Linked DNA regions of Homo sapiens: region 1 is linked to region 2. A link means that fine-mapping ties the variant in region 2 to the expression of a gene that starts in the linked region. Tissue or cell type: whole blood. Region 2 holds a variant in brackets; the other region holds the start of a gene. All regions are shown on one strand. Distances are from middle to middle.

What was found. PIP is the estimated chance that this variant, and not a neighbour inherited with it, causes the effect.
Region 1: TIPRL starts here. The variant in region 2 is fine-mapped to the expression of TIPRL in whole blood (INTERVAL, PIP above 0.99).

The regions. Positions count from the first base shown.
Region 1 is chr1:168,175,038-168,183,485 of GRCh38, reverse strand. TIPRL (TOR signaling pathway regulator) reads right to left here and starts at 4,524. Exons shown (of 7, transcript NM_152902.5): 1 at 4,305-4,524. The coding sequence starts at 4,408. RefSeq lists enhancers at 4,293-4,412, 4,400-4,901.
Region 2 is chr1:168,143,850-168,152,297 of GRCh38, reverse strand. No RefSeq gene overlaps it. Among named protein-coding and RNA genes, the nearest start is that of GPR161, 11 kb to the right of the region's middle. The variant A/TA (reference allele first, on the strand shown) is at 4,213.

The DNA of each region.
Region 1 (8,448 bases), 31 kb before region 2:
ACCTGACACTGATGAGGGAACTCAGCACTTGCCTACACAGACTTTCAGAAGGATTGTGTCAATTTACATTTCACCCTGGGGCAACAATCAAGCAAAAAAAAAAAAAAATCACAGGAATTTAACATAATTTACACACTTATGACCCAAAGTATCAGTTTTAGAATACCTGTACTAAAGAATAATTCCAAGTACAGAAAAATATTATACACATTAATACTTATAATGGCTTTACTTATAATCATGAAAAAGAAATACTCTGAATGTTTCATTATAAAGCAACAAATGATTATGCAAACCAAAGTATATCCATATGATGAAATATTATGGAACCATTACAAATGTTTAAAGAGAGACTATAATAATATGAAAAAATGCTTATGATAAAATAGTAAGAAAAAAACTGGACACACATTGTATATTTATTACATCTAAACGTGTATTTCTGTGTGCACATATCAGTGATCTAACTTTGAGGTGCAGGTCTTCAGGACTGCACAATGTTAACAATGGTCTTCAGGACTAACAATGTTAACTTTCATCATAATTTTAAGTAAAATTTATTCTTTGTTATTAGGAGATAGAAAATATTAAATACTTAAAAGATTAGATACAATAAACTGTAATTGGAATATATATTCCATAAGATTCCATAAAATAAGTTTTAACTTGAATAATGCATACCAAATGTGAAATAATATGTGAGTCTGTGGATTCTAACCAATATATCTGGAAAAATGTGGCAGTCCTATAAAATATTCCACTCATATATGTAAAAGAATCACTGTTACTAATTTACAGTCCTTCAGTGTTCTAAATATAGAGTTTCTTAAACATAGGCCAAAATGCCCTCTTTTTTTTTTGAGACGGAGTCTCGCTCTGTTGCCCAGGTTGGAGTGCAATGGCACGATCTTGGCTCACTGCAACTTCCGCCTCCCAGATTCAAGCAATCCTCCTGTTTCAGCCTTCCTAGGAGCTGGGATTACAGGCACGTGCCACCATGCCCGGCTAATTTTTGTATTTTTAGTAGAAACAGGGTTTCACCATGTTGGCCAGGCTGGTCTCGAACTCCTGACCTCAGGTGATCCACCTGCCTCGGTCTCCCAAAATGCTGGGATTACAGGCGTGAGTCACCGCGCCCGGCCTGAAAATGCCCTATTTCTAACATCATCAAGCTTCCCACTTAAAAACAGGTATAACTAGTTACAAGGAGAGAAGACAGGAAGCTCCTGTGGTTTTAAGGTGCCTTAAATATTCATTAGAAGAGCTTCTTTAATCCAATATTTTACCCAACCAATTTATTTAGCACCTTAGTGGTTTTTACAATCTATGATAATGCATCACAGAAAAATTTGGGATTGGTGAGGGTAAGTCTTCCTTTTGTCATATAAAAAAAGGCATTTTTTTTTTTTTGGCGGAGGGTGGGGGACGGAGTCTTACTCTGTCATCCAGGCTGGAGCACAGTGGCACGATCTCAGCGTACTGCAACCTCTACCTCCCAAGTTCAAGTGATTCTCGTGCCTCAGCCTTCAGAGTAGCTGGGATTACAGGCCTGCACCACCACCCCCAGATAATTTTTTTTGTATTTCTAGTAGAGGCGGGGTTACACCATGTTGTCCAGGCAGGTCTTGAACTCCTGACCTCAGGTGATCCGCCTGCCTCAGCCTCCCAAAGTGCTGGGATTACAGGAGTGAGTCACCGCACCCGGCCTCAGGCAAATTTGTTTTTAAAATAATACATAAGGAGATCGTAGATATGGAATTTTATTCCCTTAAAACTCTCCATGTATACAGCCATCGCTTAGAGAATCTGTAAGTAAATTACATGGGGGCCCCAGTTTGAAGCTGACTGCTTTATATATAATATAATTATATATTGTATTATGTTGGTGCAAAAGTAATTGCGGTTTTGCAATTAAAAACCGCAATTACTTTTGCACCAATCGGCAATTTGTCACAGAAAGTTATATGGAGAGGAGGCCGGGTGCGGTGGCTTATGCCTGTAATCCCAGCACTTTGGGAGGCCGAGGGCAGGTGGATCATCTGAGGTCAGGAGCTCAAGACCAGCCTGACCAACATGGTGAAACCCCATCTCTACTAAAAATACAAAATTAGCTGGGCGTGGTGATGCATGCCTGTAATCCCAGCTACTTGGGAGGCTGGGCAGGAGAATCGCTTGAACCCAGGAGGTGGAGGTTACAGTGAGCCGAGATGGCGCCATTGCACTCCAGCCTGGGCAACAAGTGAAACTCCATCTCAAAATAAAAATAGAAAGAAAGAATAAGAAAAAAAGAAAAGAAAAGAAAATTAAAAATAAATAAATAAATAAAAATACAAAAATTAGCCAGGCGTGGTGGCACGCGCCTGTAGTCTCAGCTACCAGGGAGTCTAAGGCAGGAGAATCACTTGAACCTGGAAGGCGGAGGCTGCAGTGAGCTGAGACTGTGCCACTGCACTCCAGCCTGGGCGACAGAGTGAGTCTCTGTCTCAAAAAAACAAAATAAAAAATAAATAAAAGTTATACAAGGCTGGGCGCAGTGGCTCATGCCTGTAATCCCGGCACTTTGGGGGGCCAAGGCGGACAGATCACCTGAGGTCAGGAGTTCGAGACCAGCCTGAGCAAAATGCAGAAACTCCGTCTCTACTAAAAATACAAAAAAAAAAAAAAAGTTATAAAAAAAAAAGAAAAGAAAGATATAGAGAGGAAAAACTCAAAAAAGTAATTCAATTTCTGGTGGGATGAAGGGAAATTTTTTTCCTTTCTTTTCTGTATTTTCCTAATTTTTTTCAGTGAGTCTACTAGAATATTACCACTTATTTTCTTGAATTAGGAAGCAAACATCGTTTCATTACTTTCCTCTCTTCCCTGGTCACTCCCTCTGCTCAAATCTTAAAATGCAAGTACTCACTTAGGGTTCTATTTTATGACCTTTTCCTCTGGATGACTTCTAGATACCTTAATTCATTCCCAAAGCTCCAGGTACCAAATATAAGCAGATAATTCCCAAACTTAAACCCACAGACGTTATCTTTTTTGAGCTCCAAGATAAATATATCTAAATGCCTACTACACATCTTCACTTTATGACCTATACCCACCTCACATTTCAATAAACTAAACTCATCCTCTAACCAACACCCTGCCCCCATCTGCTTCTCCTCCTCCTGTGCTTCTCATCTTGTTCAAAGGCATACGATACATGCAAAAATCCAAGCCAGAGATCTTGTCATCAGCATAGACTCTTCCTTTTTTATTTCTCCTCCCATCAGCTGGCCATCCCAGGGACTTAATCTTCTAAAACCTATCTTTTCTCTTACTAACTGGTCTCCTTCCCATCCCTGCGGACCTGCAATCCAGCCTCAACATGGCCTCCAGAGAAATCTTTCAGAGCGTACATCTGATAATGCAGCTCCTTTGGATAAAATTACACCCAGTGGTTGTCAGATAAAATTGAAAACTCCTTAGCCAGGCATAAAAATTCCCTCAGTATCTTGATTCCCCTGGGGCCTACCTCTCATCTCTCACAACACCCCCTATGGTACCTCACGCTCCAATCACACGGACACAGCTCTTTAAACACATCACAGCTTTCACTCTCCCTGAGCCCCCAGCTTTACATGCGTCCCCTGATTCCCCTAAATTTTGTCAAGATTCAGCCCAGGCATCAAAAACGCATCACAACTCACTCTGCCTGACCTGATGGCATGTACCTATCCACCGCCCCCCGCAACGGTTTTATAAAGATTCAGTTCAGGCATCCCAATTTCCCAGATGGTTCGAGCCCCTAAAAGACCTCACATCACTCCGTGTATACATCTTCATTACATTTATTCACGCTGTAATATAATTGTCTGTCTCTCTCACGAGACTGTGAATTGAGGCGCACGTTGTCTTTTACATTTCCTATCTCAAGCGCCGGGCACAGCACCTGACGTGACAGAAACCAAACTTATAAATCATCCCCGTCATTAACCCCTAAGAAAACAGGCAACAGCCACCCAGAAAGAAAGGTGGTGCAGGCTGAGGCAGGAGGAGACGTTTGGTGAGGGGAAAGTCCACCAGAACAGTCACACTCTACTCAAACCCAGGCGGATTGACAGTTGACGAAAGCAGCGCCTGGCGATCCCCAACCAAAGGGCCCGGAAGTGTGACTGGATTATTTATCGAAGTTGTCAATCAAAGGTCCGGTCCGGAGGGACCGAACCTCCGCCTCAGGGAAAAGGGGAGGGGCTGCACAGAGTTCGCCCTGCCTCCCGCCCTGGGCCAGCAACCGGCCAGCGCCCAGACCCCGTGCCCCGAAGCCTCACTTCTCCACATCCGCCGACTTCATGATGTGGGTCTTGGACGCCGTCAGCTTCCAGGGCCCGAAGCAGAAATCCCGGTGGCTGCTCTGGAAGCCGTGGATCATCATGGCTGAGGCAGGACCCGCAGAGGCCACAAGGAATAAGCTGAAGCAGCGGCGGCGGCGAACACCGGTTCCTCCGCCTCCCTCCGGCCCAGCCTCCTAGGCTTCCGAGCCGTTACCATGCCCGGCCCCGCCCCCTGCCGGCCGACCCGGACGCGGGCTCTGCTTCCCGTCTTCTTCTCCGCCTCTTTGCTTTTTGCTTCCGGGACTAGTTGCTCTTGTTGCGTGACCCACGTCTTACGTTCCGGCGTTCCGGAAAAAAGGAAAAAGGAGAAAGTCAGAGGGGCGGCACTTGGGTTGCAGAAGGTGTGGTTAGGAACGCACCGCCCTCTTGAACTCGTTGGGTGACGTCATCTCGAAGGATTTTAGGGACTGCCAGGGAAGGGGATGACGGTTCCAACTTGATCCTTACAGACCTCAAAGCAGTGTGATTACCTCATGTGTTAGTGAATCGTGTTACAGAGGAAATTTTTCTGTTTTGAGGTCAAAAAAAGAAGTAATCCCACAGAGTTTAGGAAATCCAGCACCAACAAGATTTAGAAGTGGCCATCTAGCCACTCTTGACTATGACCAACTCCTATCAAAAATTGCATCCTCGTAGATATGCGAAGACTTTCCATGGTCTAGTTGCTATGTAGGCACCCAGTATAGTGAAAACAACACAGCTGACTTAGTGCTAAATCTCCATTTGCAACACTATTGTGTGAATCCTTGGGCAAAGCGCTTCTCTAACGATTTTAGGCTTCAGTTGCCTCAAAATGAGATGATTTTGTTAATGGAAAAAAAACAAATTCTGTAAAAGGTTTTAAAGAGATTTATTCTGAACCAATATGAGTGACCATGGCCCAGGGAATAGTCCCAAGAGGTCCTAACAAAGAGCATCTGAAGCGGTGGCATTACTCTTTGTTTTATACATTTTAGGGAGTTGGGAATTGCAGGTAAAATAAGTCAATATATGGAAGATATACATTGGTTCAGGCTAAGGAAGTGGGATGTCTTGAAGGAGAGGCTTACAGATCATAGGTGGATTCAAAGATTTTCTGATCGGCAATCTGTTGAAAGATTTAAGCTTTAGTCAGGCGAGGTGGCTCCTGCCTATAATCCCAGCATCTTGGGAGGCCTAGGTGAGAGGATTGCTTGAGTCCAGGAATTTGAGACCAGCGTGGGCACCAGAGTAAGCCCTCATCTCTACAAACCGTGTTAATTAGCTGTGTATGATGGTATCTGCCTGTAGTCCCAGGCCACTTGAGAGGCTGTGGTGGGAGGATCTCTTGAGCCTCAGAGGCTGCATTGAGCCATGATCATGCCACAGCACTCATGCCTGGGTGAGCGAGACCCTGTCTCAAAAACAAATAAAAACACAGGCCAGGTGCAGTGGCTCAAGACTGTAATCCCAGCACTTTGGGAGGCCAAGGTGGGTGGACCACCTGAGGTCGGGAGTTCAAGACCAGCCTGGCCAATATTGTGAAAACCTGTGTCTACTAAAAATACAAAACTTAGCCAAGCACGGTGGTGGATGCCTGTAACCCCAGCTACTAGGGAGGCTGAGGTGGGAGAATCACTTGAACCTGAGAGGCAGAGGTTGCAGTGAGCCGAGATCGTGCCACTGCACTCCAGCCTGGGTGACAGAGTAAGACCTTGTCTCAAAAACAAACAAACAAACAAACAAAAAACAGTGTTAAGCTTTGTCTAAAGACTTGAAGTCAGTAGAAAGGAATGCTTAAGAAAAGGGAGTCTGCTATCTGTCATGTGATTCTACACCAGTCAGGTTGGAAAGTAAGGCACATTATACCATTGCACATAAAAAACCATTTAACGACATTTTATGGTTTGTAGGGCATGACTTAATCCTTGCCTTGCATGGCCATAGTTTTTTTGTTTTGTTTTGTTTTGTTTTGTTTTGAGACAGAGTCTTGCTCTGTCGCCCAGGCTGGAGTGCAGAGGCCCCATCTCGGTTCACTGCAACTTCCACCTCCTAGGTTCAAGCGATTCTCCTGCCTCAGCCTCCCAAGTAGCTGGGATTTCAGGCATGCAACACCATGCCCGGCTAATGTTTGTATTTTTAGTAGAGACGGGGTTTCATCATGTTGGTCAGGCTGGTCTTGAACTCCTGACCTCATGATCCACCTGCCTCGGCCTCCCAAAGTGCTGGGATTACAGGCGTGAGCCACCGCGCCTGGCTCGCAGGTCTTGTTTATTTGTATTTATTTTTTTTTTTGAGACGGAGTCTCGCTCTGTCACCCAGGCTGGAGTGTAGTGACGTGATCTCAGCTCACTGCAACCTCCACCTCCCCAGTTCAAGCGATTCTTCTGCCTCAGCCTCCCAAGTAGCTGGGACTACAGGCACGCGCCATCTCGGCCAGCTAATTTTTGTATTTTTAGTAGAGATGGGGTTTCACCATATTGGCCAAGCTGGTCTCGAGCTCCTGACCTCGTGATCCGCCTGCCTCAGCCTCCCAAAGTGCTGGGATTACAGGCGTGAGCCACTGCGCCCAGCCTAGGTCTTGTTTATAATATGGTATCTTATTGCCACAGAGTGTTTTGTCAGTCTTATGATCTCTAGTTTAACCTTAATGTTGGTCAGTTGTGCCTAAACTTTAAAAGGGAGAAGGTATAGAGGTGTGTCTAACCTCTCTTCCCATCTTGGCCTGGAATTCAGTTTTTAAGGTTTTTCTGAGGTTCCTTTGGCCAAGATTAGGTTTTGTTTTCTATCTAAAATTTCTTTTTATTTAAAAATTTTTTTATTTTTAATTTTTATGGTACATAATAGACATATTTATGGGGTATATGAGATATTTTGATAGAGGCATGCAATGTGTAACAATCACATCAGGGCAAATGGGATATCCATCACCTTAGACATTTATTATATTTTTGTGTTGCAAACATTCCAGTTATAATCTTTTAGTAATTTTTTTTTTTTGAGATGGAGTCTCGCTCTGTTACCCAGGCTGGAGTGCAATGGTGCGATCTCAGCTCACTGCAACCTCTGCCTCCTGGGTTCAAGCGATTCTCCTGCCTCAGCCTCCTGAGTAGCTGGGATTACAGGCACGCACCACCATGGCCGGCTAACTTTTGTATTTTTAGTAGAGACAGGGTTTCACCATGTTGGTCAGGCTGGTATCGAACTCCTGACCTTGTGATCCACCCGCCTCGGCCTCCCAGAGTGCTGGGATTACATGTGTACAATAAGTTATTGTTGCCTGTAGTCACCCTATTGTGCTATCAAATACTAGATTTTATTCATTCTGTCTAACTATATTTTTGTACCCATTAACCATTTCTGCCCCTCTCCACTACCCTTCCTAGCCTCTGGTAACCATCATTTTACTCTCTATCTCCATGAGTTCAATTGTTTTAATTTTTAGCTCCCATAAATGAGAGAGAACATGAAAAGTTTGTTTTTCTGTGCCTGGCTTATTTCACTTAACATAGTGTCCTCCAGTTCCATCCATGTTGTTGCAAATGACAGGATCTCATTCTTTTTTGTGGCCAAATAGTCCTTCATTGCATGTATGTACCACATTTTCTTTCTTTTTTTTTTTTTTTTTTGAGACAGAGTCTAGCTCTGTCGCCCAGGCTGGAGTGGTGCAGTGGCGCAATCTCAGCTCACTGCAACCTCCGCCTCCTGGGTTCAAGCGATTCTCCTGCCTCAGCCTCCCGAGTAGCTGGGATTACAGGTTCATGCCACCATGCCCAGCTAATTTTTGTATTTTTAGTAGAGACGGGGTTTCACCATCTTGGCCAGGCTGGTCTCAAGCTCCTGACCTCGTGATCCACCTGCCTCGGCCTCCCAAAGTACTGGGATTACAGGCGTGAGCCACCACGCCCAGCCTGCACTACATTTTCTTTATCCATTCGTCTGTTAGTGTACACTCCAGTTGCTTCCAAATCTTGGCTATTGTGAATAGTGCTGCAGCAAACACGGGAGTGCAGGTATCTCTTCAATATACTGATTTCCTTTCTTTTGAGTATATTCCTAGCAGTAGGACTGCTGGATCATAGGGTACTTCTATTTTTAGGTTTTTTGGGTTTTGTTTTGTTTT
Region 2 (8,448 bases):
ATCTTTTTTTTTTTTTCTCCTGAAAAGCACATCTGATGTTAAACCATCTGGGAGTTGTAGTGGTTCCTCCCTAAATAAATGGCAGGTTGTTTGAAACCAAGGGTGGTTACTTAAGTTTGGCCATAACTGGGTTTGTTAAGATGTGACTGAGTGTATAAGACTCTTTCCTCCCCAAACACTAATAAAATCTTTGCGGGCTAGCATAGGCTGACTTCAGGGGAAGTTATATTAAAAAAAAAAACAAAAGACAACAATAAAAACCACCGCGTGGTATAATGTGAAGAATACAAGATTTGCAGTCAGTAGATTTGTTAGTTTCCTGATCTGTTGCATCGTGACTGTTCAACTTCAGGTAATTTTTTAAAAAGTTGTTTACGTAACATAAGAGTAAAAGTAACAGTAATGATATTACTTGCATATTACTTGCCTTGGCTTGCTCATACCTGTGAAGTCCTTCTATAAACCATTAATTGCTGTACAAATATCAGTTATTATAATGGTTAAAAGTATTCAAACATGCAGCTCTGTTTTCTGAGTGGGGAACTCAATTATTGCAGATGTGGAAAAGATACACCATTACTAGACCTCTGACACAGAGCTCTAGAAATACCTAGTGATTTCAGCTCTTTGTTGTGCTAAAAATACAAGAGTAACTCTGGGGTCACCTCAGGTGACAGTAGGTAAAGAATGAGGGACCAGGACGTGAACTTCATCCTGGAATCCTCAATCAGCAATCTTGCAAAGATTGTATTAGTCTGTGTATTCCAACATGTATGAGTCTGGTTGTGCTGCACTGGGGATGGAGACAGAAGATATGGATTGTAACATCCAGGAACAGCCACGTTAAGAGTTAATTGCAGTAAATAAGGGGGGTTGTAGGCCTGTAAGTAAGCAGAAGGGGGAATATTTTGATTAAAGACTCATCTTATCCAAGAGAACATCTACTACATATCTTCTGCATTCTAGGCGCTGCTCTAGATAATAGAGGTAAAAGACATTTCTCCCCTTAGGAAGCAGCTCGTGTATTTGGGAAAGGATACATTTATGTATAAAAAGGCATGGGGCCGGGTACAGTGGCTCACGCCTGTAATCTCAGAACTTTGGGAGGCCGAGGTGGGCAGATCACCTGAGGTCAGGAGTTGAGACCAGCCTGGGCAACATGGTGAAACTCCATCTCTACTAAAAATACAAAAAAAATTAATAATAATTAGCCAGGCATGGTGGCCCTCACCTGTAATCCCAGCTACTCAGGAGGCCGAGGCAGGAGAATCTCTTGAACCCAAGAGGCAGAGGTTGCAGTGAGAGAAGATTGTGCCACTGCACTCCAGCCTGGGCGACAGAATGAGACTCCACCTCAAAAAAAGAAAATACATAAATAAATAAAAAATAAAATAAAAAGACAGATACAATCTGCTTATGTGAGCTCCATGAGGGCAAAGACTTTGTCTATTTCCGTCACAGTGCCTGCCACTCAGAAGGTGCTTCAGAAATGTCAGGTGTGTGAACAAGGAATGAGCAAGGCAAATGCTTCAGGAGTTCAAAGAAAGGAACATTGCCTAGTGGTCAGGAAAGGAAGAAAATGGACAGTGCTTGTGTTAGGACTTCAAGGACGAAGTTGGATTCAAATAGCAGAGGTGGTAACAACTATTCCAGGTGCTGAAGCATCATGTGCAGAGGCCAAGAACTAGGACTGCCCAAGGGAATGAGAAGAGGGACCATACCAATGGTCAGCTATAGACAGTCATAGACACTGTTACAGACACACACTCATTAAATCTTCACAGGTCACAGCTTTGTGAGCTGTGTGTTATTACTGCCCATTCAACAGATGAGGAAGCTGAGGCTGAGAGAGTTAAATAGCCCTGTTCCCCCAGTATCACACAGCAATCAAATGAATAAGAAAGAGAATTAAAATGTCACAGGTATTTGCGACCACATAAAATATTCCTATGTATTTCTTACTTCCTCCTCTCCTTCCTTCCTTTCTTCCTAGTGAGACAGGGTCTTACTCCATCACCTAGGCTATAGTGCAGTGGTATGATCACAGCTCACTGCAGCCTTGACCTCTCAGGCTCAAGCCATCCTCCCACCTCCCAGGTGTCTGGGACAACAGACATACACCACTATGCCTGGCTAATTTTTTAATTTTTTGTAGAGACAAGGTCTCCCTATGTGGCCCAGGCTTGTCTTGAACCCCTGGATTCAAGCGATCTTTTCACCTGGGCCTCCCAAAGTGCTGGGATTACAGGCATGAGCTGCACCACCCAGCCTTTTAATGTATTTCCTTTAAATCAGATTAAATTCAAACTCAAATCCCAGACAAATAGAATAAGGATACCTCACACCATCCCTGTCCACCCCTACCCTTAGGATAATGCAAAGGTTCTAGGGATGAATCTAGATTTTCGGGGAGAAAAATGCTCGAGGAGGCCTTTCTGCTCTCGGCCTACATGTTCACCTCTGAGAGGCCCACAACTCCTACCTATGAAGCCCCGCGGCCTGTGCCCAGCCTCCTGGGAGTTTCCATTCCTCCTCTGAGGTCCTGCCCTCTCTCCAGGATTTAGGAGAGGCAGGAGGAAAGTCTCTGCCAGCCATGGTTTTCCCTTCTCATTGTGAAGAACTTTCAGTGTCTCTGATTTTGCCTGTGTCCCACCTCTCCTCTCCTCACCCTCTCCCACCAAACAATACAAATCTCCCTCAAAACTTAGGAGTACAAAACCTTGCTTGCCTTTTGGAAAAAAGGAGAGAAAATACTGAGAGCACAATACAGATGGCTCTTTTTTTTTTCTTTTGGATAATTCCACAGCAGTAAAACCTATATATATATATATATATATATACACACACACACACATATAGATATATAGATGTATATATAGATATATAGATATATAAATATATATACAAATATCTATCTATCTATATATATAAACACCACAATATATTAATCTACCACAAATAGATAACTTTTCTTAGGAGTCTGCTGCATGGCAGGGGCTGTAGCAAGCCCTTTACCGATGAGGTAGGTACAATTACCATCCCTATTTTAGAGCTGGAGAAACCAGAGCTTAGAGGGGTCAAATATCTTACTTAATATCACAAGTAATAGAATCAAAACTCAAGCTCAAGAGCATCTGGCTGGAACATCTGAGTTCTTTTCACTACACCATATAAGGGAAGTAATGCTTCCCCACTAGAGTCCAGAGCAGCAGTTTCTTTTTTCCTTTCTCTTCAGACAAAAATCGAAAGCAAAACACTCTACATAATTACAGATTCCGTATTAAGTAACACATCTAAAAAGAAATTTACTCTTAGTATCATAAAAAATGAAATGAATTTTTACTCGTCTTTGTCACCTTCTAGAACTTTCCATTTGCACACTTAATTTTTACATATTTACCACAATATGAGGTAGAATTTATAGTCCACATTTTAAATTGCTATTATATTATACTATGTCACAGTCTCATTATTTTAATATATTCTATATATTGTATATATTATATGTAAATATATCATATTTACATATTTTTATTTCATACACACATCATTATGTTTCTATAGTCTTGGTACTCTTTTCCTTACAACATCCTTGCCCTCTCTTTGTGCCCACACCTCCCCATAAACAGAAACAATTAGAGTCTAGTGTGTATTTTCCCATACATTTCTTCATGGTCACACAATCATACAATAGCACAAGTATTGAGAAATTGGCCATTATTTGTTTCCTATATTTCTTACAATACATAGTTTGATACACTTATATACTCTTACAAAAGACATGTCTTAAGTTATTGCTGTACTTTCTTAACAATATACATTGTAAAAATCCTTCCAGGTCAATTGATATCACTTCAACTCTTTCTTGTTTAATAATACAATCTACTGTGTGGTTATTCTACAGTTTATTCAATCTTTCCTCTATAGATGGACATTTACGGCTCACTGCAGCCTCGACCTCCCAGGCTCAAGCCATTCTCCCACCTCAGCCTCCCAAGTAGCTGGACCACAGGCATGCACTACCACACCTGGCTAATTTTTGTATTTTTGATAGAAATGAGGTTTCACTATGTTGCCCAGGCTGGTCTCGAACTCCTGATCTCAAGTGACCCACCTGCCTTGGCCTCCCAAAGTGCTGGGATTACAGGTGTGAGCCACCGTGCCAGGTCTCATATATTTTTCTGTACTGGTGCTTTTCTTTCTTTTTTTTTT[A/TA]TTTTTATTATTATTTTTTTGGTTGTTTTTGTTTTTTGAGACGGGGTCTCGCTCTGTAGCCCAGGCTGGAGTGCAGTGGCGCAATCTCGGCTCACTGCAAGCTCCGCCTCCCAGGTTCGCGCCATTCTCCTGCCTCAGCCTCCTGAGGACTACAGGCGCCCGCCACCACGCCCAGCTAATTTTTTTTGTATTTTTAGTAGAGACGAGGTTTCACCGTGTTAGCCAGGATGGTCTCGATCTCCTGACCTCGTGATCCACCCGCCTCGGCCTCCCAAAGTGCTGGGATTACAGGCATGAGCCACCGCGCCCGGCCCTGGTGCTTTTATTTCTATGGGATAGAGTCCCAGGATTAGAATTTCTGGGTCGAAGGGTACATATTTGTTGTAATTTAATAGATATTGCCAATTGTCATGTTCATGCAAATATATACTTTTATTAACGGTGTAGGAGAGTGCAGCGTCCTAGTTCCAAATGCTAATCTGAGGACAATTCACCTCCGGAAACATCCATCTAGAGGTGTTGGAAGAGAACCAGGAATATGGATAGTTTCAAAGCTCTACATGTAGTTGTTTTGTTTGGTATGGTTTTTTTGAGATTGAGTCTCGCTCTGTCGCCCAGGCTAACGTGCAGTGGTTTGATCTCGGCTCACTGCAACCTCTAGCCTCCCAGTTTCAAGCAATTCTCTTGCCTCAGCCTTCTGAGTAGCTAGGATTATAGGCTCCCACCACCACACCCAACTAGTTTTTGTATCTTTAGTAGAGACAGGTTTTCACCATGTTGGCCAGGCTGGTCTCGAACTCCTGACCTCAAGTGATCCACCCGTCGTGGCCTCGCACTCGCAAAGTGCTGGGATTACAGGCGTGAGCCACTGCGCCCGGCCTCTACATGTTTTTTTATTTTTATTTTTTGAGTCTCTCTTGTTGCCCAGGCTGGAGTGCAATGGCACAATCTCGGCTCACTGCAACCTCCGCCTCCCAGGTTCAAGTGATTCTCCTGCCTCAGCCTCCCAAGTAGCTGGGACTACAGGCGCATGCCACCATGCCCCGCTAATTTTGTATTTTTAGTAGGGACGGAGTTTCGCCATATTGTCAGGCTGGTCTTCAACTCCTGAGCTCAGGTGATCCGCCCGCCTCGGCATTCCAAAGTGCTGGGATTACAGGCGAGAGCCACCGCACCCGGCTTCTACGTGTAGTTCTAATAGGTAATAGGGTTTGGGAGTCACAGGTTCACTTCACTGTAGGGTTTATCAACAGGGAGGAATAAAGGGCAGGGATCAGGAGAGCTGTTTGATGTGGATTCCCTTTTCCAAAGAGAGCTTAAATTTAAACTTTTTATCTTATCTCCAAATAACGTTATCAGCAAGACACCCAGACAGGACTGAGGAGAGAAAATATTACTCATTCAACCTTAAATGTACGCCTCATTACCCATCCACCCCACTGATAATAGTTAATTTTTTGTTGTTAGCGCAATTATATGGAAAAGCATTACCATCTGGGATGGAACATTTTAAATTCTGTTAAAACTATACCTTATGTGTGACATACGGCCACCATTCAAACGGAAATTGGAGCAATTTTTTCAGTAATCCTGTATTATTTTTCTGTAAAAATACTATTGTTTATATCAAAATACTTCAATGATTCTAATTTTTCTGCGTAAAGAAATTACTGCATTGTACTGGAGATTATTAAAAGTATTTATTTGCCAGAAGTAAATTTATTTGCTAGAAGTAAATATTGAATGTTTTAGAAGCCTCTATTGGCATTTCTCCTTTTTTCTTCTCTTTTCTGTCCTTTTCTCTCCCCACTTCCCTCTTCTCCTCCCACTTCTTCCTGTCCCTTCCTCTCCCCCAAACCCCCCACCCCCCCACCCTTCCCCGCCCCTCCCCTCCCCACCCCTCCCCGTCCCTCCCCACCCCTCCCCGTCCCTCCCCACCCCTCCCCGTCCTTCCCCACCCCTTCCCACCCCTTCCCACCCCTCACCGAGGCTGTCAGAGTCGGTGGAGGCCCTTTCGCTCTCTGAGAGGCTCTTGTTCACCAACCAGCAGCCAGGTCCACCTGGTCTTGGGACTGGGCTGCTGCAGTTCCACCATTGGCCACTAGGGGCCCTCTGCCTCCCCGGCCTAAGGGGAGAGGAAAAGAATGTCTTTTTACTTTTCTAACGTTCCTAGTAGAAATGAGTCTCATGGGTAGTTTCAAAAGAAAATTCTCAAATAAACCAGGGGAAAATAAAGCGAACTAAAGAAAAGAAGCTCCAAATAACAAACATAGTTTTCGACCTTAAGGTGACTAAAATCTACTCCTGGTTGTCTTGACTGACACAGCTAACTGGGCACAGCCTTCGTTCCTCTCTTTCCTCATTAGAGGAAGCACAAGGCACAGATAAAATTAAATTGACCGTGATACCAGGGTTAGAAGGAGCCTCGCTGCCTCTCAAAACTTAGTTGTTTAGCCAGCATCACCTCTCTTTACATGACCTTGGGGTCATTCTCCCAGCCCCTGCCCCTCCACCCTGGGAAGCTTTTCCTCTGCAACCATCCTGATCTCTGACTCCATCCACTGGTCCAAAGGGAAGATCTCCCAGGCTTCCTGCACCAGCCTGGGGGTGTTTCTTTAGCCCTCTCAGAGGACTCCGTGACCGTCCACACAGGAAGTTTGGTCTCTTCAGCCCCTTCCCTTGGAGTATCTGACCCTTAATCCGCATCTCACTGTGGGGTCACAACCATCAACAAGCCTGGGCACAGTCAGGATCAGAATCCAGGTCTTTGGACTCAACCCATGGACTGATGTTTACACCACAATCCCTCCTTCAAATGCATGACGTGATTTTAAAAAAAAAGGCAATGGCAGTAAGAACAGAAAGGTATGAATTTAATACACTAACAATAATAAAGGATCTTGAGTTCTAAAACTGAACAAATTAAGTGTGTAGAAAAATAAGTACACCTATGCCTTCTCAGGTGGTTCAGTTTTTACAGAAAAAAAAAAAAAGGATTTTCCCCAGCTTGCAGTGTACTCATTTTCAAAAACTCCGTTTTTCATGACAGTATACTTTCCATGTATCCTGGACTTAGATTCCATTGCTGGTCAACGTCAATGGCTAAAAGACAACTCAAAATTAGCACAGTAGCAAACTGACAATAGTGGAGAGAAAGCCTGCTCAGGGTGAAATCATAAGGTGGGCAGGAAAGTGATGGTAACATTTCTCAATCTGTCTCCTATTCCATTGGGTCATTCTCTTAGCTAGTGGTCAACTAAGTCAGGAATTGTTGCTTAAAGTTTAACATAGACATTTTTTGACTTTCTTTTCTGCTCAACATTCATCCACCATTGCAAGATTTATTTAAGAATACTTCCTAGATGGTGCTGAATACTTCCCATTACATTCCGTTCTTGTGTGATACTAAGATTGATCGGTTCTCCATCAACTATTCACTTAATGGTTTTAGTATACATTGATCACCATTGCCTGCAATAGTTATTTCATTAAGGGTTGCAAAATGGTGATTTTAAAATTCTGTTCTTCTTTGTGCATTTATTTGTTGGAATTTTTCTATTAAAAAGAACTTTCCCTAACTACTCTTTGGTCACACTGAATGCAATTCGTATAGGAAAAGTGGAATAAATGTTTGATTCCTTCCTTTTATTTACTAATTTTTCAGAGGAATGAATTGGTTGCCTAGCAATCACCAATGGTGACCAATTTTTTCAACTATAAACTCAAAGATTTTTCTATGTGGATATTATCTTAGTCAGTTTTCTGTTACTATAACTTAATACCTGAGCCTGGGTAACTTATAAAGATAGTGAATTGATTTCTTACAGTTATGGAGGCTGGGACATCCAAGGCCAAGAGGCTGCATCTTGCTGAAGGCATTCTTGCTGGCGGGGGCTCTCTGCAGAGTACTGAGGTGGCACAGGGCATCACATGATGAGGAGGGTGCATGAGAGAGAGCCATTGCAGACCTGGCTTCTTTAACAGACCCATTTTTGTTATAACTAACCCACTCCCATGATAACCTATTAATCTATTAATCCATTAATCCATTAATGAGTTAATCCATTCATGCGGGCAGAGTCCTTATGGCACAATCACCCCTTAAAGGCCTCACCTCTTAATACTGTTACATTAGGAATTAAGTTTCAACATGAGTTTTGGAGGATTCAAACATTCAAGCTTTAGCAGGTATGTTCCAATCCATTGCAACTCTTCTTTTTTTTAGAGATGTGGTCT